Regions from separate parts of the Homo sapiens genome. Here region 1 is linked to region 2. The links come from fine-mapping of genetic effects on gene expression. A gene starts in region 2. The other region holds a variant in brackets. All regions are shown on one strand. Distances are between the middles of the regions.

What was found.
Region 1: its variant is fine-mapped to the expression of PDE4D-AS1 in whole blood (TOPMed, PIP above 0.99).

The regions. Positions count from the first base shown.
Region 1 is chr5:59,113,782-59,116,281 of GRCh38, forward strand. All of the region lies in intron 5 of PDE4D (phosphodiesterase 4D), which reads right to left. Among named protein-coding and RNA genes, the nearest start is that of PDE4D-AS1, 75 kb to the left of the region's middle. The variant G/A (reference allele first, on the strand shown) is at 1,527.
Region 2 is chr5:59,038,815-59,041,314 of GRCh38, forward strand. It overlaps PDE4D-AS1 (PDE4D antisense RNA 1), which reads left to right and starts at 952. Exons shown (of 2, transcript NR_198970.1): 1 at 952-1,256. PDE4D (phosphodiesterase 4D) reads right to left here. Exons shown (of 15, transcript NM_001104631.2): 6 at 45-157. RefSeq lists a silencer at 321-390.

The DNA.
Region 1 (2,500 bases), 75 kb after region 2:
CTCAGTTTCCACAACTATGAAATAAGAACAATAATGTATCCAATCTCACAGATTTGTGGTGAGGATTATGCAAAGTCCTTAAAGAGTGTGGCACATAGTAAGCTGTCCATAAATGGCATTACATATTGAGATATTGAGTGTAACTAGGCCACTGTTACTGCTACTACCATACACTAGAAAATTCTCTCCTCCCTTTCCAAGAGCTAATTTTTATCACTGATATTATATACCCTTTTGGGGGTCATTTTCAATAGTCATTTCTTAAGAAAAAAGCAACAAGAGAAATAAAGTTGCAAAGATGATGTAAATGTTTAACATTATTAGTTAAATAACTGCTAGAACATGAGCAACTACAAAAATAATTTTGAAGTATACTTTGATGCAGAAAAATTTTTTTTTTGTTAAATGGGAAAAATGTGTTATAGCAGTAAGTCACCAAATATGATCCCTTTAAATATATACAAGTATACAAACATTTGGAAGGATTTAAAGTATATATTAATGGTGGCAATCCTTACATGGATAAATTTATAGAGTTTTGATGCTTTTATGACGTATTTTTATTTTATTTTCTGAACATGATAGCTGGGTAGTGTCACCAACTGAGATATATAAGGAGGCACAAATTTAGAGGAAAAGCTAAATTTGGTTTTGGATATGAAGAATTTTATAAACCCATGGGATACTCAGTTGGGAATTTCCAATAAATATTGGGGTTCCAAGCTTTGCAGAAGAGGTTAAGATGGATTTCTATATAAATTTAGGGGCTTTCAGCAAACAGGTGGTAATTAAAATAAGAATGCACAAGTCAGTCTTGGAAGACACACAGAGTGAGGAAAGCAGGAATGGAGAATGGGATCCTGGGAACCCCAGGTCAAAGGAAGGGTGGGGGGAAAGGAAAAGAAAGAGTGTACGACCTCATGCAAAGATGGAAAGGTTTTTGAGAGGGATACACTGGCAATTGACTTAGAGAAACTTGATGAGAAATGAACTGAAAAATATCTACTTGGTTTGGCAATTGGGAGAGCAGAGGAACTACAGCAGTAGTTGCAACAGAGTGGTGGGGCTGCAAGCTAACTTCAAGGGGGTAGAGGAATAAGTGGGGGGAAAAGAAAAAGAAAATGATAAGTGTAAACTTTCTAGAAGTTTGGGTGCGAAAATCAATAGAGATATGTGGTAATAACTGATGGAAGATACAGGATCAAAGAGGAAGGGAATTTTTTCCTTAGGAACTTCAACCAGTTTTGAAGGAGATGCAGCCATCAAAGAGTAGGTCAAAGAAAGAGGGAGAAGGGGCGATAGATGGAGCAATGTCCAGGAGGAGACATTGAAGGGGATGGGGATTAAATTTGGGGGTAGTCTTACTTTTAAGTGCACTAAACAGAAATCTTACCATAATATAGAAGAGCAATACAGATTGAGCAAAATATAATTTTGTATTTTTTGATGATTTGGGGTCATCAGTTTGAACACCAAAAATTATACTCAGTTGTCCAGACAGGATGCGCTCAGTGTTTCCAAAGATG[G/A]GTTGAGCTTATTGCCCCTTTCAAAAAGGCCCCAAATAGCTATGTCTGTGGTTTTCAAATGATTTTGTAGATTTTCTTTTTCTGTTGTTGTTTTCAGGCCATCAGCTGACATTTGGCTAATATCAGTTGTGACTTTCCCTGAAATCTCCTACCCAGCCTTTCTTAATTTGCTTCATCCAATTATAGAAGGTTTAGAACCACATGACCAAGCTTGTATGAATCATCACTAAAATATGAACATACATTTCTCTGGCTAATGACCTACATTATCTTCAGTGAGTGAACATTGTGAACATCTATTTTGAGTGCTTAGAGACCTCCTTTGCTTCCTTCCTTATGCTGATCTATGTTCTAGAAGAAAGGGGACACTATTAGGGTTGCAGGCTAAGTTCTTAATAGTTAGGATGTATATTGTTATTAATAATTGAGGTATAATAGATATCATGCTTATCAACACATAATGTACATATAGAGAAAAGGTTAATGGACCACTCTGAGCTTACTTATCAAAGTCTACTGCTCTTCCACAAAACCTACATGGTTTGTTGAACAATTTCTTCAGTCTTCTGCAAGCCATAATCTATGATTACATAAATAATTAATAATAGTTTTAAAATAACTTTGCAATGATTTTGGTTGTTTAGATCCCCAACAATGTAAATCTCACAATCTTCTGGCAGATTTATAATTATTAATGGAAAACACATTTCTTATCTCAGTCGATGAATTAGCGTTTGCTGTAGTCCTAATAAATATATATAGTAAATATAATATACAGCCAAAAAATGTGTAAACGTACAGGAAATAAAATGGGAATCTTTGTCCAAATTCATTAGCAACCTGTTTTCAGCATATATAGTACTGAACCACATTATAATGTTTTTTGAGCACATATATTCAAGAAATTAAAATTGTATAAAGCATACAATTCCCCATTATATAATCAGAGTAAACAAGAAGGAATGATTTCCAGG
Region 2 (2,500 bases):
ATCAGCAGCCTGGGGGCACCAGTGACAGCAGAACCGGGGCTTACCTTGTTGGAGGCCATCTCACTGACGGAGTGCCTGGTCTGTAGGGTCTCTAGCTGGTCCAGACACCAGTCCAGCTCCTCCAGGGTCTCGCTGGCCAGTTTCTGGTAGGCCTCCTCTGCGAAGAGACAGGGAAAGGGGGACTCAGTTCTCAAGCGCTTCACGGGTCCGCTAGCGAGTTCAAAGGGGGCCATCCTGCCATACCCCGCCATGCTCGGATGCCCGGTGCCGGCACATGAGGGCTGCTCCTTCATATTGCCCAGCCCGGCAGTGCAACGGGGGCGGAGGCTGTGCTCGCGGGGCGGCCGGCCTCGGGGAGGCACGGTCTCTCCAGCTTGGCGTCTCGGGTCGGCCTCCAGGGAGGGCGTGCAAAGAGCGGCGAGCCAACTTTCACACAGCGACGCGAGCGGAAAAACCACTATGCGACTTTTCAACTGTGCGGCGGGCCCGAGTCCCAGTCCAGGAGCCCGGCTCTAGCGGATGGCGAGGGGGTGGCGAGCGCGCTTGGGTGCCCGCCCCGCAGAGGAGCGTCTGGTCCACAGCCGGATCTCCTCGGTCCCCAACCCGGAGCCGCGGCCCCACGCCCGCCCCGCCTGCCGAGCCTTCTGCACGGCACTTGAAGTGAATGAATCAGCCGCGGCCGGGTGCGCGGCCACCACGTTTCCTGTTTTCTTTCTCAACTCCTCGGGCGGCAGGCGCAGCGCGGCTCCAACGCCGCAGCTTTCCGGGAACACTCCCCCTCACGCCCCTCTCGGCCCTCGGCGCTGCCTGGCTCCTCCTCAACCCCCTTACGAAAAGATTCCGAATTGCAAAAGCCTGTCCCTGTCCGTGCCACCCGCCGCGTCCTTCCCCTCGAGCTCTGCCCCGGGGGCCCCGCCACCTCGCAGTGCCATCCCCCCGGCGCAGCCGGGCGCCACTCGCTTTGAAGTGCAGACGAGGAGGCGCGGGCGCGAGCGTGTGTGTCTGTGGGGCTGCTGTGGGACTGTCTGTGCTAGGAGAGCGGCGGAAAACCCGGCGTGGAGCGCCTGCAGTCCGCCGTCCGGGGTCGCGCCCGCCGCGGGGCTCAGGAGGGACCGGCACGCAGGCGCGCACGGCCGCGCACCTGTCTCGCTAGAACCCCGCGCGCCCCGCCGAGCCACTGCCCTCCAGGTTGCCCAGACCGCTGGAGCCTCTGCGACTCCACGACCGGCTGCTTCCTGCGAAGTTTCACAAACAAGGTTATTTAGGACCCTCAAGGTTTCTGAGGGTTTAAGTTTTAGGGTTTCTGGGGGTTCGTTTCTAAAGGCTTAGGATTCACCTACTTCAAGGAGGCAGGGTTGTGGGAATTAAGACCGCATTCTTTTTCTACCCAGCCCAGTCCCTACTAAGTACCAGACTTCTAAATGTTGGGGCGGACAGAAACAAGCAAACAAAATATACAATGTTGTGGGGTCGGAACGCTTTATAATTCACAAATTTGACAATAGGCTGCATTTTCATATGCCGAATTGCCTAAGAGTTCTCTTAAAGGAACAGCAATGTGAAAGAACCACATGGTAAGGAGAATTTACGCATGTCCTGCATACTACTCCTTTCCCCTGTGAATTGCATAAGACCTAGATGATCTTGGGCCAAGGAAGAAAATCTGGAAGGGTGTTTCTACCCACCATGTGCAGAGTACACTACAATTTTGAGAAAACGGAAAGACCATATTCAAAGGCATACAGAAAAGCCTGTTCTGTTTACAAAGGCTGACCCAGGGCACCAGGGACACTGTCCCTAAGCAGATCAGTTGTGGGAGAACTTTTCTACATTAGCATGCAATAAGCAAACCATTCATAGTGAGGAGAAGTCAAACTCCCAAGGGTCCATTTGATAAAACTTTGTCATTGTCGAGTGGAAAGAAGATACTGAGAAACTTACACTAAGTGGTGGGATCCCTTGTCTTTGTCTTTGAATCTACAGGTATTGGAGAAGAAATTCTGCCCTTGAAATTTAGACTCCATAAATTAACATGGCACAACAAATAAAGTTCATGGACTGAATTTAGGCTCCTGGGATTTTTGAGATAGCTTTTTATGTGAACTTTGTAAAAGTTAGAGTAACTTTTAAAGTAGTTGTTACATGTGCCACGTGGCTTATTGTTATCAAGAATACTTGAACTATTTACTGTTCACTTTGAGTACTCTAGGTTAAAATTTGCCTCTTTTTTGTTCTACTTCCTCCACCCCGCAGTCTATGTAAATATATACTTTAGATGGACAAACAACTGCCTAAACCTTGCCAGGTGAATTAAAGTTTCAGATTGAAGCTTTTTTTTCCCCCTTAACAAGCTTAAAGATATTAATAATTTTAAATGGTAAATATAAAATACCTGCTCTGTATAGCTTCCCCAATTCTAAGAATGTAAAAAATATTACATGCTTGTTATAAAAATTGAAGCATTACACACAAATATAGGAAGTCCATTGTAACCCCACAC